Regions from separate parts of the Homo sapiens genome. Here regions 1 and 2 are each linked to region 3. Evidence: fine-mapped expression QTL. A gene starts in region 3. Each other region holds a variant in brackets. All regions are shown on one strand. Distances are from middle to middle. Region 1 overlaps RBM17 (RNA binding motif protein 17). Region 2 overlaps RBM17 (RNA binding motif protein 17). Region 3 holds the start of RBM17 (RNA binding motif protein 17).

Evidence for each region. PIP is the estimated chance that this variant, and not a neighbour inherited with it, causes the effect.
Region 1: its variant is fine-mapped to the expression of RBM17 in whole blood (INTERVAL, PIP above 0.99).
Region 2: its variant is fine-mapped to the expression of RBM17 in whole blood (INTERVAL, PIP above 0.99).

The regions. Positions count from the first base shown.
Region 1 is chr10:6,114,174-6,124,801 of GRCh38, forward strand. RBM17 (RNA binding motif protein 17) reads left to right here. Exons shown (of 12, transcript NM_032905.5): 11 at 1,066-1,138; 12 at 1,280-3,274. The coding sequence ends at 1,383. LOC101928080 (a long non-coding RNA gene) reads right to left here. Exons shown (of 3, transcript XR_930619.3): 3 at 7,411-7,839. Among named protein-coding and RNA genes, the nearest start is that of RBM17, 30 kb to the left of the region's middle. RefSeq lists a silencer at 1,719-1,919. The variant C/CT (reference allele first, on the strand shown) is at 3,352.
Region 2 is chr10:6,103,167-6,113,794 of GRCh38, forward strand. It overlaps RBM17 (RNA binding motif protein 17), which reads left to right. Exons shown (of 12, transcript NM_032905.5): 4 at 1,765-1,931; 5 at 2,975-3,072; 6 at 5,520-5,576; 7 at 6,820-6,961; 8 at 9,044-9,195; 9 at 10,342-10,415. Among named protein-coding and RNA genes, the nearest start is that of RBM17, 19 kb to the left of the region's middle. RefSeq lists an enhancer at 4,644-5,339. The variant A/G (reference allele first, on the strand shown) is at 7,864.
Region 3 is chr10:6,083,352-6,093,979 of GRCh38, forward strand. RBM17 (RNA binding motif protein 17) reads left to right here and starts at 5,683. Exons shown (of 12, transcript NM_032905.5): 1 at 5,683-5,842. RefSeq lists a cis regulatory region at 310-810, enhancers at 5,335-5,384, 6,341-7,179 and silencers at 5,545-5,984, 5,995-6,084, 6,355-6,414.

The DNA of each region.
Region 1 (10,628 bases), 31 kb after region 3:
TAACACAAGTTGTAATTGGCACATTACAAAACATTTTCTACAAACAGGACAGGGTATGCTATAAGTAACATTCTTACTGCAGAAGGTGACAGGCGTTGGTTATTTGTACTTCTCTTGCTCAATTATTACAGTTTTAAACATAAAGACAATGATTTCAAGTTTTATTTGATGAAGAAACAGGAATGCTTCATGATTGAGGATCAGTATGATGACTGAAGACCTTGATTCTAGCGTGCTCAGTAGTTTAGTTCCTTAGACATGCCTTTGGTTTCAGTCATTTGGTGAGTATTTAGTGCCTCTCACATGCACTGCACTGTGCGGAGAGCACTTGGATTACAGGAAGCATGCTCTGTACTCTCAGTGGTGTGTTCAGTTGAAGAAACACATAAAATAACTGAAAGATATTCAGTTACTAGACTAGGTAGTATTGACTAAGTTCAGGAGTTGAGAAAAGGATTAGATCAGTGAAAAAATAGACTGCCTTGTGAGCAATAGCAGATATGGGCTGCGCTTTGAAACGAACAGGTGGGATTTGCAGGGAAGGGTATTCTGATTGGGATAATGGCTCGTAGGAGACAGTGAAGATCAGGACTACCAAAATGGAATGGATGGGCCTGTTGGGGATTAGCAGAAGTGCTTAGGTGGGTGGAATTACAGAGGGCTAGGAAAGCTAGACAGAGCTAGTCAAAATGAGACCTGATGTGAAAGGCCACTAGGGCACCAGCCTTTTTAATCTGAAAGCTCTGCTTCCTCTGTTTCTTTATCCTGTTGCTGTTTGTTGACCACATAATTATTTGTTTACGTCATCAGCTGGCACAGGGCCTTTATGAGGTCAGAGACTGCCTAGCCCTGTGTTCCTGGCACCTAACAATGCCTGTCATAAAAACAGGCATTCAGTACGTTTTTGATGATGAACAAATTATACTTATTTCCTTGGTATTTGACAACTACTTGACTGTATATGATGATAATTAGAATATCCACTCTGAGAAATCATTTAAAAGAGAAAACTCATTCAATGCAATCTCAAATGCCTTTACTCATCACGCTCTCATTTTCTTCCAGATTCCTGGTGCCCCTGATGATGAAGCAGTACGGATATTTTTAGAATTTGAGAGAGTTGAATCAGCAATTAAAGGTTAGTGGTACAGCTAAATATTAAAGAATAAAAAAGTTGAATTTACAGCCTTAATCTTTACAAGTAAAGTTACTGTTTAATTAAAGTTAAACCTTTATCTTATAGGATACCTGTATTAACTGTCTTTTGTTTGCCTTTCAGCGGTTGTTGACTTGAATGGGAGGTATTTTGGTGGACGGGTGGTAAAAGCATGTTTCTACAATTTGGACAAATTCAGGGTCTTGGATTTGGCAGAACAAGTTTGATTTTAAGAACTAGAGCACGAGTCATCTCCGGTGATCCTTAAATGAACTGCAGGCTGAGAAAAGAAGGAAAAAGGTCACAGCCTCCATGGCTGTTGCATACCAAGACTCTTGGAAGGACTTCTAAGATATATGTTGATTGATCCCTTTTTTATTTTGTGGTTTTTTAATATAGTATAAAAATCCTTTTAAAAAAACAACAATCTGTGTGCCTCTCTGGTTGTTTCTCTTTTTTATTATTACTCCTGAGTTGATGACATTTTTTGTTAGATTTCATGGTAATTCTCAAGTGCTTCAATGATGCAGCATTTCTTGCACTAAAAAAAAAAAAAAAAAAAAAACTAGAAAGTTTTGGGACATGGGGTTATATTAAATTATTCTTTGTTTTTCTTTTTCTTTTAATAAAGCCTGCAAGTTACTAAATTGTAGTTTCATAAATTCTGTAGTAAAGTATCATCTTGGCAGTGTGCCAAAGGTGAAAATGATGCTTTCTCTAACAGAGAAATTCTTAGTGACTCCAGTCGTAGAAAAACGTCTTTACAACCTGAATAAGATTGAAGAATTGTGAACATACCATGGCCTATTGGATGAATCATTTGCCGTAGGCTAAATCAGACTGTAGGGTTTGTGATGGATTTATGGAGTATGTGGGTATAGAAATCATGAATCTAGCATTTGTTTTCAGAGATTCAAGCATAGTCTTAAGGGTAGATCAGAAATGACAAATGAATTCAAAACCTAGCAGGTGCATTGTAAATGTGTGCCCAGTTATGTTTTGGAAATGGCAGTTCCTTGGGGTCATGTTTCTACTGGCAAAATTTGCAATAGTGTTCTATTGTATGTAATTTTAAAATTTATAAGATTATCCACGTTGGCCAAGTAAACTGTACTGCCAATAGAATTCTGGAATTGTGAGAAATTGTATCATTGAAGTTCAGTAGGATGTGTGGCTTAAAAATTTATCAGGACCACAAAAAAGAAAACAAAAATATTTGGTACTGAGGTTCATTGCCAGGGCAGGAGGTATTTCCAGAAAATACTCATGCCTGTGTTCTGTTCCTTGCTTTCCCAAATACTGCATGTGACTTTCCTAAGCGGCAGCTGAAAGACTCGAGCCCGTGCTGTCTCCTTTGGTTATTATGACATGAAAGTGTATCAAGAACTCAGCATTTCTTTGCATCCATGGACTTGGTTTGGAGACATAAGGAATATTCTGACCCTTTTTAAAAAAGGATTTTCTCATGTTTTTATTTAACATAAATAAAAGAATAACATTTTATCTTTTGTGGTATTATTTTATTGAATAAAATTGAGTTTTATGATAAAAGTGCACCTGTTCTGTAAAGTAAGTTGGGGTTAAGGAATGTGAGGTAAATTACATAATTGAACATTGTGGAAGACAGAATCAAAAGCAGCCCTGGAACTTCAGTTATCTATGGAATTAGGCATACCATTCCTCAAGTGGAAACCATGTTTGTGCTTACAAGTACCGGAGTGTGCTTGTTTAATTTTAGAAACTAATGGTTCCAACCCACCTTTCATGCATGCATTTATTGTTGTTATGCTTTGTAAAACATTGTTTGCACCTAAATGGGTGGCTTTTCCTAACATTCTCATGGTCAGCAACCAGAGAGTTGCAACCAACTCATACTACTTGATTTCCGTTCGCATGAGGACAGCTTGGTGTGTGCCTTTCTCCCCAGTCTTTTATTTTTAAAATAACTGTGTTAATCAGTTAGTGCTTTATTTATAATGAATTTCTGATAGTCGAATAATTTCTAAATCTCCTGCAAGTTAGTACTTGAGAAATTTGAAATTAATTTTCAATATTAACATTTAAGCTAATATAAAAATTTTAAATTTCAATAAAAATTAAAAATTATGTAAGCTACAATGTAACTGGCAAGTTTCCGTGTAATAGACGTTTGTCATTCTTGGTGGCCCATCTGTGAGTTTTTGAAACCCCTTTTT[C/CT]TTTTTTTTTCTTTTTTTTTTGAGACGGAGTCTTGCTCTGTCGCCCAGGCTGGAGTGCAGTGGCATGATCTGGGCTCACTGCAACCTCCGCCTTCTGGGTTCACGCCATTCTTCTGCCTCAGCCTCCCAAGTAGCTGGGACTACAGGCGCCCGCCACCACGCCCGGCTAATTTTTTGTATTTTTAATAGAGACGGGGTTTCTCCGTGTTAGCCAGGATGGTCTTGATCTCCTGACCCGTGATCCGCCTCAGCCTCCCCAAGTGCTGGGATTACAGGTGTGAGCCACCGAGCCCAGCCTGAAACGCCTTTTTCTGTGTGGGGAACTTCCTTGTTTCCCTCCTCCCCGCAAGAGACTAGAAACTTGCTTTCCCAGCCTGTCTTGCAGGTTGAGTAGGGTTGTGCGCTTGGGATCTCTGATCAGACCGGCACCGCAGTGTGGGAGAGAAGCTGTGTGAAGAGTCTGTCGTCTGACTTTGGCAAGGGTTCCTCTGCACAGTGTTGTGTGGCACTGGGGGCAGCAGTGGCAGAGACCTTGTCACCTCTGCTGGTGTGTGGTATCTGGCAGAGCAGTCTATGGAGGGGTTTGGGATTTTTGCTTTACATAAAACCTGCGGCTTGTCCCTGGCCTTTTCCTTTTTTTTTTTTTTTTTTTTTTTTTTTCTGAGACGGAGTCTCACTCTGTTGCCGAGGCTGGAGTGCAGTGGCGCGATCTCGGCTCACTGCAAGCTCTGCCTCCCGGGTTCATGCCATTCTCCTGCCTCAGCCTCCCAAGTAGCTGGGACTACAGGCGCCCACCGCCACACCCGGCTAATTTTTTGTATTTTTAGTAGAGACGGGGTTTCATGGTGTTAGCCAGGATGGTCTCGATCTCCTGACCTCGTGATCCACCCGCCTTGGCCTCCCAAAGTGCTGGGATTACAGGCGTGAGCCACCGCGCCCGGCCTCCTTTTTTTTTTTCTTCTTGAGACAAGAGTCTCACTCTTGCCTAGGCTGAAGTGCAGTGGTACAATCTCAGTTCACTGCAACCTCCACCTCCCAGGTTCAAACAATTCTTGTGCCTCAGCCTCCCAAGAAGCTTGGATTACAGGCATGTGCCACTATGCCTGGCTAATTTTTTTATTTTTAGTGGAAAAAGCGTTGCGCCATGGTGGCCAGGCTGGTCTTGAACTCCTGGGCTCAAATTATCTTTTTGCCAAAGTGCTGGGATTATAGGCATGAGCCACCGCACCCAATCCTTTTTTTTTTTTTTTTTTGGTAGATTTCTTTCTGCTTAAACAAGCTAGAGTGAATTTTTAAATCTGCACCTAAGACCCCTGACTGATAACAGATTGATAGCTGGGATTGCACATGACAAATCCTGAAAGATGAAAGATGGAGGAGGTAGGATGGGACTGGTAAGGACCCGGTTTCCCTGGGCTGAAGAACTGGTGAACCTCGTTACTTGGTGGTGAGGCATTTAGCCAAGCTGCTGCTGTTCCTTGGACTATAGGCTGGTGTTATGGCTTGCCTCGGCCTCCCAATATGCTGGGATTATAGATGTGAGCCACTGGCCTGGTTTTTTTTTTTTTAATGTACATAAATTAAGATTTAGTCGTGGCCGGGCGCGGTGGCTCACGCCTGTAATCCCGGCACTTTGGGAAGCCGAGGCAGGCAGATCACCTGAGGTCAGGAGTTTGAGACCAGCCTGGCAAACATGGCAAAACTCTGTCTCTACTAAAAAAAAATTAGCCAGGTGCGGTGGCGCATGCATGCCTGTAATCCCAGCTACTCAGGAGGCTGAGGCAGAGAATTGCTTGAACCCAGGAGGCGGAGGTTGTAGTGAGCCAAGATTGTGCCGCTGCACTCCAGCCTGGGTGACAGAGAGGGACTCTGTCGCAAAAAAATAAAAAAATAAAATGTATTCATCTTTACAGTATCACACAGAATGGCTTTAAAGCCCTAAGAAATCCCCTGTGCTTCATCTATGTAGTGAAATTTCCACCCTACTCCACACCTGCATTCCTGGCAACTACTGATGTGTTGACTGTCTATAGTTTTGCCTTTGCCAGAATGTCATGTAACTGGAAAGCACATACCATGCAGCTTTTTTCAGACTGGCTGCTTTTGCTTGGCAACGTGCCTGTCAGATTCATGCATCTCTTGTTGTGGCTTGATAGCTCGTTCTTTATTCCACTGTGCGGATGTACCACCATATGTTTATCCATTCACCTACTGACGGCCATATTGATTACTTCTAGTTCTTGGCAGCTATGAGTAAAGCTATAAGCATCCATGTGCAGGTGTTTCATGGACACGTTTTCACATTAGCGGGGTACATATTTAGGAGTGAGACTGCTGGATTACATGGTAAGACTTTCCTTTTGTCTCTCCCGTTTTCAAACTCTGTACTGGCATATAAATTTCCTCAAATCTCTCCCATCTTTAATGGAAATAGGTCAAACCTTGAATTTTTAGCCACTCCCCAACTCCCTGGTGTCCCCATTCTTCTCAGAGAATCCCAACATCCCGCCTCCACCTCCTTGCTTCTTACTGCCTCTTCCACTCAGCCCACACTTGCAGAATGAGGACTGCGTCGACTACAAATTAGACCTCTGCTTCCACCAGGCCTCCTTGATAGTTCAGCTAAGAGCCGTGCGGTGAGTCTCCTGACGTTTTATGGCACTTGACGCTGGTAACCACTCCCTTCCCGAGGACGGAGACCGCGGCCCTGCCAGTATCGCTCACGCTTTACCTCTTCCCAAGTGTTTTTATCTCCTTACCTTGGCCTTGGGCTGCTTCTGTGACTCACCTGTATTTGAATCTCAGCCAGTCTTCCTTACCAAACTTCAGATCTGTATCCAAGTGCCTATTAGACATCATCCCCTGGCTGTCCCCTTTGCACCTCAAACACATGTCCCGAACTTTAACTCACTTCTTCCCTTTCAAGCTCTCCTGCTAAACTCTCTGATTTGGGGGAAAGCATCATCTATTCAGTCATCTAACTCAGAAACCCAAGAATCACCCTCGATTCCTCACTTTCCCTTCTATCTAGATCCAGTCTGTAGTTGAGGACCGCCGGTTCTGTTTCTTTTCCATCTTTCATGGTAATACAGTGGAGCTCCTTCATTTCTGACCCCTTATCTCCTGGGAGTAGGCCCATGGGCTCCCGCTGGTCTCCCTGCTTTAACCGTGCACCCCTCTCATCTTCCAAGGCAATGCCTCAGCTGTTCAAGCCACTCCCGTATACACAATCCTTACCGCGTCTAGACTCCTGCTTGGAAGCCGGGGCGTTCTCACTGCCCTCGCTGCGCCGCGCCTTCCCTTAGGTTCCTGTGGTGGGAGTGTTGGCAGTGACTTCTGCTCACGCTCTCCCTGCTGCCTGGAGAATTGCCCCTTCCCTCATTCCCCTTCCAACACGTATCCTGGGCCTGCTGAGTTGCTACTCATGCGAGGTTTATTGGCACCACAGCCCCATAATTGAGAAACAACAGTCCCCAGCTGCACACCTCCCCCGCGGGAACTACTTTTAACTTTTTAGCTGGCCTGCTGCTGGTCTCTGCCTCCATACTTCTAAATACATCCTCATGAGGCTCCTTCCCTCTCTTCCTAAGCAGATGTCTCGGAAGAAGAGGCTGTACTTACTTTCCACCTCCCTCATCTCCATTCAGTCTTTAACTCGCTACAACTGAAGGAGTAAACCCAGAAAAAGATGGCATTGACTCGGGGAAATAGGGAACCCAAAGTAGGAGAGACGAAAGCAGTTCCCAAGGTCATCATGAAAGAAGTCTTGGTCCATAGCCATACAGGGGCCTGGAGAACTCGTGGTCCATCCGGGAGCGGGAAGATGAGGGGCTTTCCAAAGTTGTAAAATAATGGTAATTAACCATGATATACAACTGACTCAGCTGAGATGAATACACAAAATGCCATATCATATAAATACTGATTACAGGTTTGTTTTTTAATGTTGCCCTGGGCCCAGCTTGAAAGAATGAATGGGGCGGGGGGGGGGGGGGGGGGCGGCGGGCAACGGTGCGGGGGGTGGGGGCATGGGAAAGCTAAACTTTGTTTCTTTTTTTTTTTTTTTCTTTTTTTTGAGACGGACTCTCGCTCTGTCTCCCACGCTGGAGTGCAGTGGCGCGATCTTGGCTGACTACAACCTCTGCTTCCCGGGTTCACGCCATTCTCCTGCCTCAGTCTCTTGAGTAGCTGGGACTACAAGGCGTGCGCCATCACGTTCGGCTAATTTTTGTATTTTTAGAGACGGGGTTTCTCCAGGCTGGTCCCGAATTCCTGATCTCAGGTAATCCACCCACCTCAGCCTCCCAGAGTGCTGGGATTACAGGCGTGAGCCACCATGCCCAGCCCACTCTTCTGTTTTCTAGGAAGTCAGTGGATTGTCAAACGTTCTTTTGGTCTCTCCTGTGCTGGAGCGTTGCGCTGGATCCTGCGTCTTAATCTTCTTGATTTCCTCTCTATTTTTGGTGGAGCTTATCTTGAAGTAGTTTCCTAAGAAAAGATACAGGAGAGATACAGTTTGTTAGGCCATGCATGTCTGAAAAATCTTAATTCTGCATTTTTCTTTTTCTATTTTTCTTTTGAGACAGGGTCTCCGTTGCCCAGGCTGGAGTGCAGTGGCGCGGTCATAGTTCACTGCAACCTTGAACTCAGGAGCTGAAGCGATCCTCCCACCTCAGCCTCTAGAGTAGCTGGGACCACAGGCACTCACCACCACCCACAAAAATCATAATTCTGTCATGCTGAATTGCTAGTTTGACTAAACGTGGACTTCTTGATTAAAACCCATTTTCCCTCAGAATTTTGAGGGCATTGCTACATTCTCATTTTCTTGTTTTGCGGTTGGTAAAGTCAGTGTCCTCCTTGCTGACCTGTTTTTCTTCTCTCTGGAAGGTTCTGGAACCACTGTCTGGAAGTTTCACGACTATGCCGTGGACCTCTTCTCGTTCAGCATGGTGGGCATTGGGGATGAACCCTCTTTTTTTTTTTTGGAGACAGAACCTCGCTCTGTTGCTCAGGCTGGAGTGCAGTGGTGTGATCTCGGCTCACTGCAACCTCCACCTCCCAGGTTCAAGCGATTCTCCTGCCTCGGCCTCCCGAGTAGCTGGGATTACTGGCATGCACATCATGCCTGGCAAATTTTTGTATTTTTAGTAAAGACAGGGTTTCACTATGTTAGCTAGGCTGGTCTTGAACTTCTGACCTCAAGTGAACCGCCCACCTCGGCCTCCCAAAGTGCTGGGATTACAGGCATGAGCCACCGTGCCTGGCCAGGGGATGATCTCTTTCTAGAAATTCATATCCTTCAATTCTGGAAATGTTTCTCATGATAGTTCTTTGATAACTGACCCTCCTTCCTTCACTGTATTTCTCTTTCTGGGACTTTTACTAGTCAGTGTATTTCTGGGTTGGTCTCTCTCTTTTCTCTTTTATTGGCAACCCTGATCTAAGGAACTAAGGTATAGAGGTGGTTGAGTCCTGACCAGAGCCGTGAGGGTCTAGATTTATGTAAATGATGGAGCCATACACGTTACTTTATTTATAGCAAGATATTGTAAAGATTTTGAAATGTCATTTATATGAAATGTCAAGATTATTAAATTCGTAGTTCACTGTAACCTCAAACTCCTGGGCTCAAGCAATCCTCCCACCTCAGCCTCCAAAGTAGCTGGGACTACAGGCACATCCCACCATGCCCAGCTAATTTTTGTATTTTTTGTAGAGACGGGGTTTCACCATGTTGCCTAGCCTTGTCTCGAACTCCTGGACTCAAGCAATCCTCCTGCCTTGACCTCCCAAAGTGTGGGGATTACAGGCACTGAGCCACTGCACCTGGTCAATGCATTTTTAAATATGGTCTAAGGGTATCAGCAAGTTGCAGATTTGATAACAGCTGGGTCTTTTCATTTAGTAACCACCCTTTTTTCCTCCTCTGTACTCTCACACAATATTAAAATACCTCCTATTAAATCTCTATTATCCTCTTCTCTTCCTGTTGCATTTTTCTCCCACAACTTAAGGCTCAAGTCTAAGCAGTGAAAACATAAGGTTTCCGATAAGCTAAGACAGTGTCTATCCATGGACGGGTTCGTGACAAACCCCTGTGGGTCCCTGGCTTGCTGAAACCAGGTTTCACATGAGGGGAGGAAGTGGCTTGACAAGAAGGGGGTTGCTAAGGGAACTTTATTACTCATTTCTCTTGGAAAAAAGCAGAAGGAATAAATGGAATAAAAGTCTGATAATTTGGCAGACATGCTTTGCAGTTACTTGCAGTACTGTGCTTAGGTTCAGAATAAGGAACTAAGTAACAATAATTGACGCTGAATCTCTTCAGAAGTAAGCTGATGGTGACTCAATAAACTCTCCCAGATGACCGCTGTATACACAGGTATTTTATGAGGGTGCAACTGGATTAAGTCATTCTGAACTGAATTTTGCATAATTATTACCAAAATTTGGATTGAAAAGTAAGTTTACAGTTGGCATTCCTATTTAATTTTAGTTTTTGTCAAAATAATATCTGTACATAATTATAAAATCAACTAAGTCTTCAAATACTCATAAATCAGAACAGCACTCTGCCTCCACCAGTCCCATTCTCCAAAGGAAAACACATTCAGTTCTTGTTTTTTTTTCTTGTTGTTGTTTTGGTTTTTGCATTTTTCTTTTTTCTTTTTTTTTTTTGAGACAGAGTTTTGCTCTTGTCGCGCAGGCTTGAATTCCTGGGCTCAAGCGACCCTCCACCCTTGGCCTCCCAAAGTGCAAGGGATTACAGGTGTGAGCCACCATACCAGCCTTCAAGGGCAGTTCTGATGCCTAACACCTGCTGATCCAGCTCAACAATATTGGATCACTTGAGGTCAGGAGTTCGAGACCAGCCTGGCCAACAGGGTGAAACACTCTCTCTACTAAAAACACAAAAATTATCCTGGCATGGTGGCGTGTGCCTGTAAGCCCAGCTATTTGGGAGGCTGAGACAGGAGAATCACTTGAACCCAGGAGGCAGAGGCTGCAGTGAGCCGAGATTGTGCCGCTGCACTCTAGCCTGGGTGACAGAGTCAAACTCTGTCTCAAAAAAAAAAAAAAAAGTCTCCGATGCCCTCTGGCCTTCATGGTGGACATTGGCATGTAAAGCTCACAAACACCTTCTCCCTTGCAAGGAGGATGATACAGAATCTTCACATTCTTCTGCATGGCACCAATTGTGCTATTTTAACAACAATGACTGTGCAGAAATGAAGCCAGTGCTTTTTTCCTCCAAGCCTTTGGACAAAGCATGT
Region 2 (10,628 bases), 20 kb after region 3:
GATATCAGCCATTTTTATGGCCAATCTGTTCTGGCACCAGTTTACTCCCAGCAGTGCACAGTATCACCTCAGGCATATGAGGGTGAATTTTACCCCATCCTCCCCCCTCAGCATTGAGGGTATTAACATTTTAATTTTTTTAAATTGAACAAATCACTTTATTCATTGCAGCATTTAGAAAAGGATGATTGATTTCATTGTTAAGCATAGCAGGGTTTATATGTAAAAGTTTTTTTCTTTGAAATTTTGAAGTGTCAGAGAATGAACCTTCATATTGACAGTTTGTTCTCTTAGACACGTTGTGATAATTGTGTTAGATAAATTGAGTGGCTGGTTGTCATTTTCTCTCTAAATAATAACTGAAAAGAAATCTTCATGTGCTTTTGTATTTTTTAAATGTCTTTTATAAAATGAATACAAATGTATAACTAACCTTTAGGAGCCCTACATTAAATACATTTTCCAGTGGGTAGGGCCTGGGAGGTGATTATAGTTATTTTCCTAATTGCTCTTATTCATTGGATCATAGCATTTCCTGATATTTCGTCGTAAGGAAATGGTGAAGTGTTTGTTTTATAGTGCAAAATGTCACACCGAACCATGAAACACAGGAACTGTTCGATTTAGGTCTGTTAATATGGCGTGTAAGCTGTCTTGATTTTGTCAGTTCTGTGTTCAAGCAGGAAACACGTTTACAAACGACCTTCTTGCCTTTGATACAGTTGGACATTGTACCTCCTGTAAGAGGTACAGACTGGGCGCTCAAGGACATGAATCCTTGTTGTTTTGCATGTGTGTTTTAAAAAAAATGGGGACACTAATCCTAACCTGTGCTTGTTTGAGGTGTCTTTCAAAACCAGAGAAGGCATCTTATTGTTACAGATAATAACGAAGAATTATGCTAAGAACACTAACAGGAGAAAGTGTGGGAAGGTTTAGGAAAGTGGGGTCAGGGCTTCCAGCACCACGTGTAGACCGAGGCTGCCAGCCTAGGGTAAAGTTCTGTGTCTGCTCATGTATTTCCTAGTATACTGGCTGTGCTCTGCCTCTCGTTTTGCTAATTTCTTTGTCATGGCTACCTCTTTTCTTTCAAAGAGTAGACCAAGTTTCTGAATGTATAGACGAGAAAACACGAAGTGTTATCTAAACCTGATTTTAGTGAACCTTAAAAAAAATTATGATGCTGGAAGGGACATTACATCCCCTTGTGTCAAACTCAGTGCCTGAAATGCAGCCTACCTGGGAAGGGACATGTGTTCAGAGGATTAGAAAGACCAAGAAGATGCTTTCTAAGATCTCCATATATTCTTATCTCCATGTAATCAGAATCTGAAGTTATTCTGTTAAAATGATGACTGCAAGAATGATTGTGGTGTTCATGGTTGTTTTATTTTTTAAGTTGTCATAGAGATCTATAAAAACAAGTATTCAGTGCTTTACTATAAGTATTCTAATTTTTTGACTCAAAGTACTAGTAACTTATATTTTAGCTGGTGGTGGCTTATTTAGGAATTCCAGGAAAAATGCCATAGAGTATTATAGAAATAGTACTAATCTAAGAGGTGAAATTTTGTGTCCTGTTTCTGCTACCACCTGACTAGGCACGTGGCCTTGTCTGGTATTTGTTTTCTTTGTCTTTAAAACAGAGGAAGGGGCTAGATGATGTTCAGAGTCCTTTTATCTCCCATACGCTTTGACCTGAATCCTGTGAGTAAACTGGTAAGATATAAAGAGGATTCTTACTGCTGTTTTTACCTTCCTCAGGATCCTGTTCCCAGTGGGTTTTCTGCAGGGGAAGTTCTGATTCCCTTAGCTGACGAATATGACCCTATGTTTCCTAATGATTATGAGAAAGTAGTGAAGCGCCAAAGAGAGGAACGACAGAGACAGCGGGAGCTGGAAAGACAAAAGGAAATAGAAGAAAGGGAAAAGTAAGGCTTCCTTTGGATTTGGGGATATTTTACAGTTGAAATGTTCATTAAAATGTTAACGAATGAGCGTCGCTGCTGTCTGTAAGGCTGAAGTTAATTGTCATGGGTGATCTGAGCAGTCACTACAAGGAATCAAACTGTTTTACGATTTGTACCTGTTACATCTCAGAATCACAGCAAACTTCACCTGTAGACTGAAGACCTAAAGTGTATATTTTGAGTGAGTTGTTAGAAAAATAACTTATAAACCTGATGTTGAAAATTTTTTTCTATGCTGATACTCTGCTATAGGTTGACTATCCCTTATTCAAAAATCCGAAATCTGAAATGCTCCAAAATCTTTTGAATGCCAACATGCCGCTCAAAGGAAATGTGCATTGGGGGATTTTGGCTTAGGGATGCTGAACTGGTAATTGTAATGCAAATATTCCAAAATTTGAAACACTTCTGGTCCCAGGCATTTGGAATAAGGGATTCTCAACTTGTAAAATCACAGCTATTTAAAGTACTTGAAATATTCTTCTTAACTTTACTATTTTTGAGCCAGGTGGAATTTTTAAAAATTCATATGCAGCTTTTATTTATGTTTTTGCAAAGTACGAGTAGTAGGATGTATTTGTAGTTCTTTTTAAAAATATTTAGTATTATCAAATAGTTAACATGTATTAAATATTAATATACTGTTTCCCATTTATTGAATCATTTCATGAGTGAAAGTGTTATAGACTATTGAAATGATTGAACTATTACTATGTTGATAGGCTTTAACATTGGAAGAGGTCAATGTCAAGGAACCTTTTTTTTCATGCTGGTTGCTCTCGTATACTTATTGGTTCAATTTATCTCTTGAATTTTTCTCACTTTTCATACTTTTATCTACTTTAGTCTTTTACCAGTTATGCTTCCTACCCCCTCTACCCCTGCAACTTCATAGTTGATTGTGACAGGATTTGGATATCTTCTGGTCAAGAGGAAGTCATCCCAGGTTCAGGTCTCTAAATTGGTTCATCTGTGATGAACATTTATTTCCTTTGTTATCACAGAAGGCGTAAAGACAGACATGAAGCAAGTGGGTTTGCAAGGAGACCAGATCCAGATTCTGATGAAGATGAAGATTATGAGCGAGAGAGGAGGAAAAGAAGTAAGGCATGAACAAATATGTCTTAAACATATATAAATACTGGAAGTGCAATTCCACTATGTGCTTTTTCTTTTCAGTTTGATAAATAGTTCATTTGACATTGATTTGGGTAATTTTCTTTCTGGAATCCCAGCAATACACATTTGCGTCACAGTTTTAATTTATATTGGGTTTTCATATGTATTTTCCTTTGAGCTTCACAACCACTTTCTAACATTTATTTATTGGATACTTTGGGACTAGCTTAAAATCTATTCCTGCACTGTCTTTACCTGCAGCACAGTCCAGTTGGCCGATGCTGAATCCACTCTGTTGTTTCTCTTAGGGGGGAAGCATAGTTAACATTGAGTGTGTCTGTTTTGGGCATTGTGACACATTTCATATCCGCTATCTTAGTTAATCCCCAAATGTTTGGTTTTTATTAACTTCTTTTGGAATTCAGTATATAGGTTGAATATTTGTAGGTCTCATTTTTCCAGCTTATAAATTGACTGCCCTTTTTAATAAGGAGGCATGCTTTCCATACTAAGGACATTTGTTTTTTTTTCTTAAACACCAGCAGGAACTAGATAGCTTTGAATGAGAAGACTTTGTTTGACCTTGTAGCTCATGATAGGGAGGTAGTGGCATGCCCATCATATGTATAGTTGTTGACAGATTGATGTTCTTATTTTAATGTGATTAGTAGCAGATTTCCAGTAATCACCCTGAATTTTTTTAACTGAACTTATTAGAGCTAATCTGCTTTTCAGAATCAGTAATCACTCTAGGTCCTAGTGACAAGGTTAGTAAAATGATCATGGAAGTATTTCAAAGGAAATAGAAGAAGGTTTTACTCAGGTTCATATTTCTCCTTGAGGATTTTATATCATCCAGTCCTGTTAATCAAAATGCATGGACACTGGCTTTAGAATAATTTCTAGAATAATTCTTTAGAAGAATGAATTTATTTATTTTTGAGATGGAATCACTCTGTTGCCCAGGCAGGAGTGCAGTGGTGCAATCTCGGCTCACCACAACCTGCAACCTCCTGGGTTCTAGCAATTCTCTTGCCTCGGCCTCCAGAGTAGCTGGGATTACAGGTGTGCGCTACCACGCCCATCTAATTTTTACATTTTTAGTAGAGACAGGGTTTCACCATGTTTGCCAGGCTGGTCTCAAACTCCTGACGTCAAGTGATCCACCCACCTCAGCCTCCCAAAGTCCTGGGATTACAGGTATGAGCCACTGCACCCGGCCTCTTTTTTTTTTTTTTTTTTTTTGGAGACACTCTTGCTCTGTTGCCCAGGCTGGAGTGCAGTGGCGCCATCTCGGCTCACTGCAACCTCCATCTCCTAGTTTCAAATGATTCTTCTGCCTCAGCCTCCCAAGTAGCTGGGATTACAGGTGTGTGCCACCATGCCCAGCTGATTTTTGCATTTTTAGTAGAGATGGGGTTTCACCATGTTGATCAGGCTGGTCTCAAACTCCTAGCCTCAAGTGATTTGCCTGCCTCAGCCTCTCAAAGTGCTGGGATTACAGGAGTGAACCACTGCGTCCAGCCAGAATAATTTCTTTTGTCAAACATTTTGTGCTGATGCAGCATGACTTTGTAATCAATTTTTAAAGTTTTACATTTTGTTTTTATTTCATTGTTGATTAAGCCATAATACATATGTATTATGTAATATTATGTATACGTAATCCATATATGTTAGGACTTATGCCTAATGCAAAATTCCTTGTGGTCTCCACTGATGTTCTCCTTCCAGTTGTCGGATACCAGATAAAAAGATCTGTCTTATCTCTTTTGGTTTGTTTGTGTTCACCATTCGTTGTCCAGGAAATACACCAGGAATAGTGACAACACGCAGCAGTTTCTTCAGGAGCCAGAAGGACCCACGCTTTCAAATATGTGTTTAGTTCCAGTGGTTTGCACACTGGAAAAGGAGCGTGCTGTGTGGTGGGGGAGATATGGCAACGCAGGGAGCTGGGTTTACTCCCTTTCTGTTGATTCACTCCCCTCTGATCATTCTCTTATTTGTAAACTGGATGCAGTAATATCTACTTCAGAGGTCTGTGAAGCCTGAACGAGGCCATGTGTATAAAGGGCCTAATGGGTATTGCTCTCGGTAAATAGTTACATTACTCTCTTTTTAAGTAACTGCTGGTTCTCTTGGTTGTATTGTTTTGCCTTAAAATTCATTTGCAGACTACATTGTGGGGCTCTTGAGTTCCTTTTATGAAGGAACAATTTTGCATATCTGAGGGAGTGTTGCCACTTTTCTACATTTTAAATCCTAGCATCAGAGGTTTGTTCATATGTAGCAGGAGGTCATCTGAAGTAGCAGGTCCTCCTTTTTTAGTTTTTTCTTAGGGGGGTGGGTGATAGATATATGGTGTGTCATAGTCGTTTGGGAGTCTGGCATCGGAAACCTCCTTTAATGCTTGGATTTGTGGTTTTGCAGGTATGGGCGGAGCTGCCATTGCCCCACCCACTTCTCTGGTAGAGAAAGACAAAGAGTGTAAGTAGATCTGTTTCTTCCTCTTTTATTCTGATACAGGTCTTTAACCCAACCATGGGGGATCTCAGCTTGGGCCCCCAGGTTTCCTGAGCGTAGAGGGAAACGGCCTGCAAGCCTGCCTGGCTCTGTCACCTGAGGCCGCACCTGGATCTCAGAATGCAGCGCCCTCCTGCAGAGAGAGACCTTTCTACGCCAGGCTCTGAGGCTTGGATTTCATGCAGTGGGATCCATCTCTTTTTTATGCAATTCACTTTGATTTCATTAACATTTCTTATTTGTTGTTAGATTCATTTGGAGTTAAAACAGCAGATCGTTACAGTTTTTTAACTCAGAGGTTTAGAGGCTGTTATATTCATGATCCTCCACAAGGTGGCAATGCCTTCCTTGATTAGATTTTTTCTTCCCGTTCCATTTCACTGCAGGTGGGTTTGCGTGTCATTGCGTTGCCAAAACACCCTCACCCACTGTTCCTTCTCGCAGTGATCTGCTCTAGAATTTGGGGGTTGGGACTGGACTTCTGAATATCATCTAGGTCATTTTCCCATTCTCTGGATTGGACCATACTTAAACTATCCCAAGCAGATATTCTCATTTATAGTACTTTTTAAAACTTGTTGAATTCTTTATCTTTTAAAGAAGATAATTTCTAAGATATTATGAAATACCTATTATGTGAAAACAACAGACAAACAATAAACCCCAATTGAAACTAGTCTCTGGGAGTGGGGCTCAGGCATCTGGATGGTCTTAAAGCGTCCTACTGACTTTCATCTAACTAGGGTTGAAGCCACCGCTCCAGTGCGTAGCCCCTAACCTCGGACACCTTTGTGGGCCATGAGCTGATGAGATAGTGAGGTCGGGGTCTAGACAGGTGCACCCAAGTTACTGCAGGAGTCAAAAGATGGCCAGATTGTATCTCCTTAGAACATACAGAACATCTTTCCGGCAAGAATATTCATTCAAGAAGATTTTAAAGGGTGAATAACATTTCAGTAAGATATAAAAAAGACGTTTGAGGAGATAGAAATAGCAAAAGGAAAGTTAGAATCAGGAAAGTAGCGTCCTCCCTCTGTGGTTTTAAAAAAAGTCGTATAAAGGCTGTAAAATTGATTTGGTGTTTTTCTCTCCTTGTGGTAAACCAAAAAGTAGGTTAAATTTGTTCAAGATAAATAATTGATACAAGTGAGGTTTCAGAGTGTTTTCTATAGTATTTTGGTGAGCCTACTTTATTTTTCTCCAATAGTACCCCGAGATTTTCCTTATGAAGAGGACTCAAGACCTCGATCACAGTCTTCCAAAGCAGCCATTCCTCCCCCAGTGTACGAGGAACAAGACAGACCGAGATCTCCAACCGGACCTAGCAACTCCTTCCTCGCTAACATGGGGTAATGATTTAATGTTCTTATCTAAGGACTTGAGAGACAGTGTGAAGCGTTGATAGCCCTTTCAATAGATGCAGCTTGTTTGAAACTGAGGACATTCAGGACCCTTGGTGTGTGCAGGTCACACGGTACCTGCCTCAATCGTGTGGAGCGTGTTCCAGTGTAATGATGGGGCTTGTTCAAAACAGCAACCTCCCAGTAGAAGTTTTGACTCATTTTGATGTTGAACATTATTTTCCTAGACAGGCACAGAACCTGATTAATGTTTACATTTGCCTTCATAACGTTTGCAAATAAAATAGCTCATATGAATCAGAGCTGACTTACTGTCTCCAAAGGGCAGGTGATACCTTTTTTTTCCTGATAAAGTGGGCCATTTGCTTTCAGGTCATGGTTCTAAACCTTTGGTCTAAAAAACTCGGGGTCATTCTAACTACAAGTTGACATGTTTGCCAGCATATAAAATTTGACTGTAAGGCTGACGCTCAGGTGGGGCTTGGGGATTTTTTTAAACTGTGCTGGGCTTGGCAAACATTTTGGTTAAGAGGATATTCTGTGTTGTTGACTTTGATCCTGTGAGACGGCTGTCCCATGAAGCAGTATCACATGAAGGCTTTGTTCTGTGCTGTGTTGCATCTGCTGGCTGCTGCCTGTAGCAGAAATGCAGCCGGTGAGACAGTGAGTGGGGTTGAAACTCACTAGTCTCCTTTCAAGTGCTCAGTGACCACATGCAAGTGGTGACGATGTTGGATGGTGCAGACATAGGACATGGCCGTGGCTGCAGGAAGCTTTGTGTACTGGAGGGTTGGACAGACATGAAGCTGGTTTTGTTTTGTTTTGTTTTGTTTTCCCTGTTTATGATAAAAACTGACTTTTTAGCGAATTTGCTTTTAACCAGGAATTAC[A/G]TCTTTAACTTGTGCTTAGGAAAGATGCAAGATGGTACCATTCAGCAGTTTCTGGTCTTTTTAGCCCTAGAATAGCTTGTTCAAATGAAAATGTTAAGGGAATTAAATACAAGAAGTAATGTAGGTGCAGTTCCAGTTGAAGCGGGATTTTGTGGCTTAAGCCCTAAGCAGCAGTGGTCATGGGGTTGGGGTGCCCTTCAGACCCATGCTGCGCCTCAGAGCGCAGTGTGAGAGCCATTTGGTTGTTACAGAAAGCAGTGACTGAGAGTTGTGGGGTCCAGTTTCAGCTCTACCATTAACAGCTGTACAAATAATTTATTTGTTTTCTGAGATGGAGTCTCGCTCTGTCGCCCAGGCTGGAGTGCAGTGGTGCGATCTCGCCTCACTGCAACCTCTGCCTCCCAGGTTCAAGCAGTTCTCCTGCCTCAGCCTGCCAAGTAGCTGGGACTACAGGTGCACACCATCATGCCCAGCTAATTTTTACATTTTTAGTAGAGATGAGGTTTCACCATGTTGGCCAGGCTGGTCTTGAACTCCTGACCTCAGGTGATCCACCCGCCTCGGCTTCCCAAAGTGCTGGGATTATAAGTGTGATCAACTGCACCCAGCCTGTACAAATAATTTCTAATATGGCGTCTTGCATTACTTCTAAGTCCACCCCTTAAGCTAGTCAGCTAATCTTGGCCTCCGTTTATTTCTCATTTGTTAAATAGGTGATCTCTAAGGGTTCTTTCATTTGTATAGTCTGTCATTGGAAACTCTCCTGTGCTATTTAGGAAAATGGGATCATCTTCATTGTACGAAACTTCATACTTACTTTTTGATAGCCACTTTTTAATAAACTGTGGTCATAAGCTATGTGGCAGTGCAGGTCCGGAGCACACAAAAGGTCTTGTGTTTCCTAGCAGGGCACTGAGGAGACTCCACCAGAGAAACTGACATTTCCCCTCCAAGACAACAGGATGTTCTGGATTTTATTCATAGCTTTTTCTATTTCTTTCATGCTGCACATCCCCACAGCTTCCATCTAATAGCCCACTCCTAGTTAATGAGTGACTTTGTTGAAGCCCCTGTGGAGCATGCACTCTCTCCAGAAGGAGGTTGTTGTGATGGAAAAATGCAACCTATCTCCAGTTGACGATGTCAAGGCTAAGAGTCCTTTCCCTTCTTCTCCTGCCAGGGGCACGGTGGCGCACAAGATCATGCAGAAGTACGGCTTCCGGGAGGGCCAGGGTCTGGGGAAGCATGAGCAGGGCCTGAGCACTGCCTTGTCAGTGGAGAAGACCAGCAAGCGTGGCGGCAAGATCATCGTGGGCGACGCCACAGAGAAAGGTGTGTCCCCAGGGAAGCGTGTGACTAGAGGGAAAGGACTGGCCCCATCCATATCAGACATGGCCAGTCTTGATCCTCATGTGTCAGCAGGGGGACAATGAGGCGTGTGGCCAGAGGGAGAGGGCTGGCCCTGCCATCACTAGAACACAGGCCGTCCTGTTCATATGATGCACTGCCACTTCCGTTTTGTGAAACCAGGAATCCTGAGGCTCATCTTTATTTTTTCAGAACAGACGTAGAGAGATGAAGGCTTGTGGAGGAAAAGATGGTGAGAGACTTGGGCAGAAAATGAGTAGTCCTCAGGAAGAAATCTTGGTTATGTGTTTAGAGCATGAAGGACAGAGCCATATAGTGTGGCAGTGAATATACCTGCTATCTCCATCTCAGAGGTCGTCTCTACTTTTCCCTTTTGCCCTTTCAGTATAGATGTGATTTCTGATTCTCTTACAGATTGTTTGCTTTGCGAGATCTGATGTTATGTTGCAGTCTCTTGGTAAATGATGCCTAGTTGGTGTTTTATTTTCATTTAATTTTTACAGTCTGTTCTGTGTTGAGGGAATTCAGGAAAGAGACAAACATATGTTAGCATTTTAATCAGGGAATTAAGTTTGAGTCAGCCTAGCTGAACTTCCTTTGCTAAAGAAAGAAGAAAACTTTTCTGGCAGCCCCGTTCATGCACAGCTTAGGATACATCACGAGCCTGACAGGTGAGTGCCAGAAACCAACAGTTGTCCCGACTTGTGAGGTTATCTGAAGTAAGGCAGCCGGTGGCTGGATTAGTAACTGCATATTCCCCTGGGCCCGTGACCTTGAACGTTTGCTCCAAGTCAACTCACCTATAGGAATTATCACTCACATGCCCTGTCAGCCCTTTGGGAAGTGAGATGAGCAAAAATTGCAAGTAATGGTGGAGGCTCAAAACATCCAGATGCTATTGTAAAAACATGCCAAAGCAAAGCAGAGGCTTTTATTGCAGATAAGGCTGTGTTTTCGCTCAGAGACCAATTGTGTAGATGCCTAGGACATAAATGGTGGGGATCGCTATTGAAATTAAATTAATTATTGTAAGTAGGACTCAGTTCTGTAACACATCTAATGATATGCTGCTCAGTTCTGTAACACATCTAATGGTATGTTTTGATACAGATGCATCCAAGAAGTCAGATTCAAATCCGCTGACTGAAATACTTAAGTGTCCTACTAAAGTGGTCTTACTAAGGGTAAGAAGCTGAGGAAAGCAAGCTCTCTGCCTGCCTAGATTTGTGTGTGTCACCCCAGCCTACCCTGCTCCCCCTAAAAGTTAAAACTGAAAATGATACTTTTGCAAATAATACTTTGGGCAGATCCCACGTAAGGCTGATTTTAGATTTTTCACTAATGTGTAAGTCTCTTTGCTAAGTACAGTGTTTAAGACTGCAGTGAGTAATTAAATA
Region 3 (10,628 bases):
TAAAATATGTAAATCACTCTTCCCAGAGCCTGGTGCATAGGAAGTGCTTGTTAAACGACATTATTGTCAGAGTGGGAAGAATGGCAGACTTCCAATGGGATTGGGGGGACTAAACAGTACAGTGCCAGAGATACGCCTCGTGGGAGCATCGCTGTCCTGCTCATTATTTAAATCATATTCCCCTTATGAGGCAGCTTAAGATACTGAAAAGCACACTAACCTCAGTCAGGCAACCCTGGGTCCTCATCAGAGTTCAGTCACTCACTGGTTGTCCGACTTCAGCAAATCCCCTAACCTCTCTGAGGATCAGTTTCCTGTTCTGAAAAATGTGCATAACAACACCGGTCTTGTTGAGTCACTGGGAATGCGTGAGATAATTTACACTAAAACCCCTGGCACACGGTTGGCAGTAGTTCTCCCCGACTCTCCTAGGAATGTTTTTCCTCTGTGCTGAGCTGTTGTCACTGCTCTTTGCAACACTTTTGCTCCACGGAGGGGGAGGATGTAACTTGAAAGGGTTACTAATCCCTCGAAACCCTCAGATCACAGATAAACTCATTTCCCGATCATGCCACGTAAGCCAATGATCTGGCTTTGATAACCTGATCACACGTTGGGGACCACATTAAGGTTGCCACTCAAAGCTGTACTCCTGTTCAAAGCGTTGGAGCAAGGTTTGCTGTTCTGCCCCTGTTCTCTGGGGATAGCACTAAAGGGCACAACGGAAAGGATAACAGTGCCCCAAGGAGGCATCACTCACAGATGAAGCTCTTGGCCTCACTGGCTGAAGAGTGGGAACCTCCCAGCTGGGAAAGGATAAAAACAGTTTATCATTTTATTGACCATTTTAGGTTGTGTGCATATGTAAGCTTGGCACTTAAAAAATATCCACACGAGCCCAGGTGCAGGCTTATGCCTGTAACCTCAGCACTTTGGGAGGCTGACGTGGGTGGATGACTTGGGCTCAGGAGTTCAAGAACAGCCTAGGCAATACGGCAAAACCCCGTCTCTACAAAAAATACAAAAAAACTAGCTGGGGATGGTGGCACATGCCTGTAGTCCCAACTACTTGGGAAGCTGAGATGGGAGGATTGCTTGAGCCTGGGATTTCGGGGCTGCAGTGAGCAGTGATTATGCCACTGCACTCCAGCCTGGGTGACAGAGTGAGACCCTGTCTCAAAACTATATCAAAATAAAAAATATGCATATGAAAGCCATAAATTGCACACAAAAGTTATGTTTTTAAAAAAGTAAATTTCTTATTGAAAAGATTAGTTTTCAACTAATCAATGCAATTTAAAAATGTATGAAAATATTTTCAAACAAGCAGAACAGACACCAATTAGGTGGAAGATGAATTAAAACTTTAAAAATTTCAGAAAATTCTATGTACTTTAAAAATTGATGATCTCCTTCATTATATTTTTATTTTTATTTTTCTCTTTTTTGAGACAGTCTCACTCTGTAGCCCAGGCTGGAGTACAGTGGTGAGATCTCAGCTTACTGCAACCTCTGCCTCCCAGGTCTGAGCGAATCTCCTTCCTCAGCCTCCTGAGTAGCTGGGATTATAAGCGCCCACCACCATGCCCGGCTAATTTTTGTATTTTTAGTAGAGACGGAGTTTCACCATGTTGGCCAGGCCGGTGTGGAACTCCTGGCCTCAAGTGATCCACCCACCTTGGCCTCCCAAAGTGCTGGGATTATAAACGTGAGCCACCGCGCCCAGCCTTCTTTCATTATTTTTATTACAAAAGCAATGCAAGCATATTACTCAGAGATAAAAAAGGCAAACAAGCAAAAAAATTTAAATAAAGAATCCTGATAATCCCTATCTGGAGCCAGCCATATTGGCAAATACCTTATAGATACTTTGTATATATTTATAAATTTTTAAAACAAAAATGGGATCCTTCCATGTAAATTATTTGTCTCTCAACATAATTGAATTTCCCTAAGTTGTTATTGTTCGCTAGTTTGTTCCTATATTTTTACTATTAGAAACCTTACAGAGCAGGAATAACTGTAGAGAATGATTTAGAAAGACAAAAAAAGTGAAAAAACTTTAAAAAATCTGTGAGATGGGCCGGGCATGGTGGCTCACACCTGTAATCCCAGCACTTTGGGAGGCCAAGGCGGGTGGATCACTTGAGGTCAGGAGTTTGAGACCAGCCTGGCCAACATGGTGAAATATCATCTCTACCAAAACTACAAAAATTAGCAGGGCGTGGTGGCAGGCGTCTGTAATCCCACCTACTCAGGAGGTTGAGGCAGGAGAATTGCTCGAACCCAGGAGGTGGAGGTTGCAGTGAGCCCAGATCATACCATCGCACTCCAGCCTGGGCAACAAGAGAGAGACTCCATCGAAAGAAAAAGAAAGAAAGAAAGAAAGAAAGAAAGAAAGAAAGAAAGAAAGAAAGAAGGAAAGAAGGAAAGAAGGAAAGAAGGAAAGAAGGAAAGAAGGAAAGAAGGAAAGAAGGAAGGAAGGAAGGAAGGAAGGAAGGAAAGATTTCTGAAATGGCCGAAGCTGCTTAGAGATATACATGCCTGTAATCCCAGCACTTTGGGAGGCCGAGGTGGGCGGATCACCGGAGGTCAGGAGTTCGAGACCAGCCTGGCCAACATGGTGAAACCCCGTCTCTACTAAAAATACAAAAAGTAGCCGGGCATGGTGGCGGGCACCTGTAATCCCAGCTACTTAGGAAGCTGAGGCAGGAGAATCGCTTGAACCCGGGAGGCGGAGGTTGCAGTGAGCTGAGATTACTCCATTGCACTCCAGCCTGGGTGACAAGAGCAAGACTCCGTCTCAAAAAAAAAAAAAAAAAAAAAGATACAAAAAAGGAGACAAAAATCATTCTCCACGGTGCACCGAAAGCATCCCTACACACAGAATCCTTGGGAATACTTGTTTTTGATCAAATTATAATCTGATCAAATTGTCTTAACTAGCTTGTCTTCCCTCCAGGGCCCACACCCCTTTCTTTTCCTGTTTCGGGGTCCCCCGGTTCCATCCATGCTGCATACTGTAGCATTTCACCCAGCCTTTCCTGCCAGCCCAAACACCGCCCTTATCTTCTTTCTTCCTGGAACATCTGCCCTGCTAATTCCCAGTTTCCGATGAATTCTACCATCTGCTGCCTGCCAGCCTCCTGCCAGGCGCTGAGCACAGCTGGAGCAGATCACACGACTTGTTTACGCAGGAGTCACTACCGATGTTTGCTCTGCAGCCCCGAGGGGGCGCTCCAGCGCGTCTGTCTTGTCCCTCTTCTAAAGCTCCACCGTTTTGTGTGCGCTTTCTGATAGTTGCATGGCCTGGGTTCTGTTCCCCCATTGGGTTAAGCTTTGGATTCTCGGTGCATAAAATAAAGATGATATTTGTTACTATTGACAGGAAATGGAGGCAAGCATGAGACTGCTCACGTACTAGGAAATGAAGTAAGGCAGTTTTCCTCCTGGAAGTTAAACTAGAAAATTCCTAAACAATGGATGTGATTGCATCTATGGTCTGTAAACCAAAAAGTTACTTGTGTATGTATGATGGAATGATTTGGGAACAAAGGCACAAATTTTCAACCAAAAAGGGAGGAAGGAGTGGTCTCAGACTGCAGAGTGGAGACGCCAAGCAGATTAGGGAGTACAGGTAGACAGCAGGTTCAACCTGGAGGAAGTCCTGCAGCTCTGGACCTCCTAATCAGGGCTTTTGCACCCCCACCGGTGCTTTGATCACGGGGTGGGGAGAGACCCAGTCTAGACACCTTCTATCTTTGCCCTTCTTCCTTTTTCTGTTTACACGCTATTACTTTCTGCTTCTTTTATTGACCAAGTACGTCCTTCTGCTTCTCACATTTTTATTTTATTTCCAGTTTCTTGCACAAGTGCTTAATTCATTTAGCTTTTTCCAAGTTTTTAATTGATACAAAAACTTAAAACCATGAATTTTCCTCTTAGTACTCTCTGAGCTAAATCCCATGAGTATGTCATTTTCATACTTTTCTAGATATTATGTTATTTTGATTTTGTTTTCCTTTTTAGTCCAAGTGTTATTTAAGCATTTAAAAATTTTCAAGGGGTAGGCATGTTTTATTTTCTGTTTTTTCATTAATTTCTACTTTTATTGAATTGCTGCAGATAATATTACCGATATGATTCTACTTATTGGACTATGTTAAGATTTTTCTCTGTGGTTTAAAATATGACTAATTGTTGTGAATATTCCTTAGACACTGGAAAAGATGTAATGTCTATTTAGGGGACAGTGTTTGATATATTAGATCTATCATAGGAATTGTATTTTTAGGTCTTCTCAATCCCCATTTACTTTTTGTACTCTTCGTCTGGCAAGGAGTGTGCCAATTATTTCTGTCTATTCACTCACTCCTACAGTGTTTGCTATGAATAATGAGATTATGTGATTTGGTGCAAAGATTTTCCTATTTTTCCTATTTTTTTCTTGATTGTGAATTGTGCTCCTCAAGATTATAAAATGTCCTTCTTAATCTTACTTAATGCTTTTTGCCCTGAAATCAACTTTGTAGTAAGCGGTTTGTGATTCCTGATTTTTTTAATTTTTTTGCATATTCCTGGTATATCTTTTCCAATCTTGTATTTTCAAACTCAGAATAACGTTAGCACTTTCTTGTATACAACACTGAGTTGCATGATGGTTTGTGCTCCTATCTGAGATTGTAGTTTTTTAGTAGGTAAGCTTAGGTCTATATTTCTTCTTGTGAGACATTTGGTCTTGTTCTGTCATATAGTTTGGTTACGCTTTCTGTTTTGTAACTTTTTAAAATATTTCCCTATATATATATTTTTTTTGCTGTGGTTTTGTGTGTGTGTGTGTGTGTGTGCATGCATGTATGTGTGGGTGCATGTATGTGTGGATTATTTGAAAGCTTTGTAGTTTTGTTCTGGGTTACCCTCAGAATCATACCATCCCATGACGTCCTTAATCCTCTATTTCTTTAGATTGTCTTTTGTCTCTCCACTGTATTTCTTTTTTCCCCCTTTTCCCGTTTTCTTAATGACTGGATTTTAATGGATTATAGTAACTTTCTTGGTATACTCCTTCGGACTAAGACGTCTGCTTAAATCTCTACTATTTGATTTATCGGCTTGAACTCTATTTGACACCCAATTAATTACAGATGTAAAAATCATATTTACCCGAAGTCCCACTTTCCCTTTCCCTCCCTGCTTCTGTCAGCGACGTCGTTTTTAAAGACCGAGGCTTTATAGCATTGACATTCTTTTCTGTACCCCTAATCGCGGCATCTGTTTCCATAATCTTACGCTTAACCTCGTGCTCCTTGCCATCCTTTTGCAGCATCTGGCCTATGCAGACTTATTTTCAACTTTTTGCTTATATAGGAGTGGCTTTGAATGAATGAGATCGAGGGGCCTGGAGGGACTTCCCCCACCTCCCCTATCAGAAAGCCCGGCCTCGGACCACTTCTCCTCCTCACCATCTGGGGGCGCTGCCGCGCTCCCCAAGCCTTGTGGAATTTCGAAAATGTGCGCCAGGGCGACACCTCTTGATGGTAAGAAGACGCCGGCGGAGGGGAGCGTGCAGTGCGGTCCTCCCGCGGGCAGGGGGCAGTGCGGCAAGGCGCCCTCGGCGCAGGCGCAGAGGCCGAAGCAGGCGCAGGCGCAGGCGGGGCGCAGGCGCGGGCGCGCTCTCCCGGCAGCCCGCGCTCCCTGACCCCGCGCCGCCGAGCGCCCTGAGGACTCAGCGAAGGGTGGGCGCCGCCGAGGCCTCCTGCCGCTGGCGGGTTTCCGCGGAGTGCCGCCCGGCTCCGCTCTGCCGCCGGCGCGGCTCATGGGCAGAGTCGGCCGGGCGGGCCGGGTAAGTGGCGCCCCGGCGGCCCCGGGTGGGTGGCCTGGCGGGACCTGAGGCGGGCGCGCCTTCCCGGGAGGCGCTAGACGCAAGCCCGCGGCTTTAGGCCCGTCGCGAGGGGCGGAGGCCGGGCCAGCGCAGCCGGAGCCTCCGAGGGTCTCAGTCCCCGCGGCGGGCGCTGGTCTCTCCACGCGGCTGCGGCCCGGTACCCTCCGCCCGCCGCCGCCTCTGGTGACCCTGGCCCTGACCTTCTCCCTCTTCCCTTCCTCCTCCTCCTCCTCATGTCTGCCTCGGGCTGTTTGGTGCTGAAGAGCGTTTCTTCTCCGTCTCGTGCACCGCATCCTGACGAAATTGTCTGGTCACCAGAACCGAGTAGCCCGTAGCGTGTCCCCCCTGGCCCTGCACGGTTGCCCCTCTCTGGGGCTCGGAGCCGGTTCCTCCCGGGGTCTCAGAACTGGGAGTGCAGACGTTGGCGTTTCTCAGACTCCGGAGCTGCCCGGGACAGGAATGCAGCCCTAACCCCGGCGTCGCCTCGGCTCGTGCAGTTTGAGCGGTGTTTCAGCGCTCACGTCCGACCCCAGGCAGTCTTTGAGCTTCGCCTCTTGCCCCGAGAATGTGTAATGATCGGAGAATGCAGGTGGAATGAGGTTCTGCCCCTGCTTGCAGGAGTTTGGTTTCTGGGAAAGCAGGCGTGAAAACCCAGGCCCGGGTTGATTTGAGAAACGCAAGTGGGGTCTGGAAGGACCTCTCTTGAGAGAGGAGGTCATGCTTATGTTGAGTCTTGAAGGTACGTTGTTAGATGTGAGAGGTGGGAAAAAGGCTGCCGGCGGAGGAAGTAAGTGCGAAAGTAGCAGAAGCGAAGCCCCGTAGTGCGTTCTGGAAGCTGCAGGTTAGGCAGAAAGAAAGGTTTGAGGAGGGGCTGCTGTGTTTCCAGGAGTAGTCAGGTCAGAACATGGAGGTTTCTTGAGAAGCAGTAAAGAAGCGCCATTGAGGGTCCTTATTTTGCTAGAGCCAGGCATATGGATGGGAAATAGGATATTCTAGATAAGGGCAAGATTCGCATATACTCAAATAGATGGGTAGATGTGCACTGGCTCCCCGCAGCAGATGGAGTTTTTAAAAGGATGCAACACAAGTTTCCACATTTTTAGTTGTAAAGGCTGCAGACATTTTGATCGTAATGACAGCTTTTAGGGAATATGGGGTAACAGTTTAGTGAGCTAAACGAGAGGGCTTTATTTTTAGAGTTAGTTAAGCAAGGTGCTGCGTGCTGTCCAGTTTATAACAGAGCAGGTTGTGCGGTTGTGGAGCTCTGCGGAACCAAAGGCAGCCTTTCTGGAGGCTCTTGAGAGAATTGTTGTACACTTCCAAATGCAGCTTTATTTAAAGTGGATTTCTTTTTACCTGGTTTGTTTTAACTTACCTTCCCATTCTCCCCTGCCTATGAATTTTTCAGACCTCCTCCCAGCAGGGAACAGATGATCCCAGGCTAGTCATCTCTCAAACCTTTCATAATAGTCAATAGTGAAGGAAGTTCTGTTATTCGCCTAAATTACAGGTGACTGTAGTGGACTGTGTTTGCAATACTAGCCTATGGCATTTTGGTAACAGCCAGAGGGTGGGATTGAATGGAAAGATTAAACTGACAAGGGCGTCAGATGGAGGTATGGGAAAAATTTTTTTTTAATTCTTTAGAAAGTCATGGTAGATCTTATACTTGAGGTAGATGCTTTTTAAGCTGTATTTTTTGCGGACACCAAAGTGCACCACCCCTCCTGTTCCTTTCTGGGTATATTTGCCATATATATGTATATAAATATATAAATATTTATATATTTATATATATTTATATATTTTTATATATATATTTATATACATATATTTTTTTCTCCTGAGACAGAGTCTCACTCTATAGTCCAGGCTGGAGTGCAGCGGTGTAAGTCGGCTCACTGCAACCTCCACTTCCCAGGTTCAAATGGTTCTCTGGCCTCAACCTCCTGAGTAGCTGGAATTACAGGCGCTCGCAACCATGCTCGGCCAATTTTTGTATTTTCAGTAGGGACGGGGTTTCACCATGTTGGCCAGGCTGGTCTCGAACTCCTGATCTCAAGTGATCCTCCTGCCTCGGCCTCCCAAAGTGCTGGGATTACAGGCGTGAGCCACTGGGCCCGGTCTTGCCATATTCTTTAGGCTTCAAAGAGGCATGCTTTGTTTTATGATGCATGAATATCTGTTTAGTGATAGAAATATTTCTTGCTAACAAGCCTGCCTCTTTAGGTGCTCAGAACTCAGACCTTGACTCGTTATTGGTTGTGTGGTGGTGGTAGTTTTTTTCTCCTTAATTATGGTTTGCAATTTAAATTTTATCCTACTTATCATAAGTTATGTGCTTAAAAAGCAGATCTGCAGATCTCACTGTTTCATAATAATGTGATTTAAATAGGTGCACTAACATTTTTCATCCATTCACTAACACATTTAAAAAATATTAATAGAGCCACTTAACAATGTTCAAGCATGGTGCTGAGCTAGAGATACAAAGCTGAACATAAGAAACACCCCTGCCTTTAGGGGGCTTACACTGCAGGAAGAAACCGCTGTGTGAAACAATAGGCAGCATAACTTGCCAAGGTTGCTGTGATCTGAGTATGCTTGAGGAAACCAGTTGGGGGGGGTTAGTTTTATGTGGGGGCAATAGTCACTAAAGGCTTCTGAGATGCACTTGAAAGATAAGTAGGTGGGGTGCTTCTGAGAAGACTCTTCCATGTTCTTTTTCCTGCCAGTTGCACATGTTTTAAAAAAATACTTTCCAGCTTGGGTGGAATCTTGAAAACTCACCATTCTTCCTTCTGGCAGAACCATGTTTGTTATGTTTCCTAAGAAAAAATGTAGCATATATGAAACGTGGGTTGCTCAAAGGGAAGTGTTGCCACAAAAAGGAAGGAAATAGCAAATATTTTAAAGTTATAAAAACCAGCAATTTGTATTTACTTTTGATCCTGGCTTCTTATGGTATATCCAGTTGTTACAAAGTACAGCTTTTTGTTACCTGGCAGCAGACCTAATGAAATAAATGTGTTATGTTGTCTAAGTAATAATGTCAACGTTAATTAGGGTAAGTTTGGGTCTTGGCAGTCTTATTAATGTACTTATTACATTTCAGTAGTTGCGGTGGGGAGAATTAATGAACAAACTATTGTATATTAAATGCTTAATATAGCGAAAATAAAGAATACACACTTTTTAAGGAATAGATTAACTAAAACTGTAAATAAAATTAACATAAAAGGAGGAAAGCAAGGAAATAATGAGAAGAGGATTCCGGGGAAATTACATGAATGGGTTGGGGGAGTAGTATGGTTGAGTGTGGTTTCTTAGTCTAGATCCTGTCTTGTTTTGGGTGGTGAATTCACAGGTGCTTGCAGCATTATAATAATTAAACAAAAGCAGGTAATAAGTGTGTGAATGGATGAGAGTGTGATGTTACTATGATTAATCCCATTCTGTGAACTTAAAATTCAGTGAAAATGAGAAAAACGAAGAAAGCACTTTTGCATTTGCTGTGATGCAGAGATTTGATTTTATAAGCTCAATGTTACAGAAAACTAGCAGGTGCTGGTAAGATGACATCAGTTTCTAATATTTAAAGCGTTTTGCAGGTTTGAGAAGAGAAATGAGGACCTTTAAATGAGCATGAGATTTGCTGCCTGATGATTTCTGAAACTTTTGCGCAATGCAGCAAATCAACTGGAATTGTCAGTCAGCCATCTTAAATGACATGGAATCAGAGGAGATGTGTGGTCTCATAAAATCTCATTAATTCACTATTTAATTTTTGCTAAATATTGAATCTATTGATGGAAGAACTGTTGGCAGCTGAGATCTAGTACACTGCTAGATTTTTAGCCTCAAAGTTTAGAGAACTCTTTTCATCAGAGTTGACTCTTCTGGGGAGGGTGAGGAGTGTTGCCTCCCTCTCTGGGGGTTACTTCCTTCCCTTATTCCCCAGTGCTGCCTCTTTGCCTATTTATTTTTTATTTTATTTTTTTGAGACAGTCTCGCTCTATCATCCAGGCTGGAGTGCAGTGGTGCAATCTTGGCTCACTGCGACCTCCGCCTCCCGGGTTCAAGCAATTCTCCTATCTCACCCTCTTGTCTCAGCTGGGACAGGACTACAGGCGTGCAGCACCACACCTGGCTAGTTTTATATTTTTAATAGAGATGGGTTTTCACCACGTAGGCCAGGCTGGTCTCAAACTCCTGACCTCAAGTGATCCGCCCGCCTCGGTCTCCCAAAGTGCTGGGATTACAGGCATGAGCCACCGCAGCCGGCCCATTATTAGTATTTTAATAAAGCTTATTAAATGCTTGCTATATGACAGAAATTGTAGATGCAAAAATAAATAAGTGAATCTTTCCCCTCGAAGTTTAATGGGCATTTGGTTAACCCATTTCTGGTGGCACTAACGTATTCATAAACACTTTCGGTAAAGTTCTCAAGTTATAAAGAGAAATGGGTTGAGTATCCCTTACCCAAAATGCTTGGGACCAGAAGTGTTTCAGATTTCGGATATTTTTAGATTTTTAGAATGCCTGCATATACATAATGAGATACCTTGAGGATGCGACCCATGTCTAAACACAAAATTCATTTATGCTTCATATATACTTTCTACACATAGCCTGAATATGCAATATATGTCATACTTTTAATAATTTTATGCATGCAAAAAGATTTCACTCTGTTTTTGACTGTGACCCATCACATGAAGTCAAGTGTGGAATTTTTTTTTTT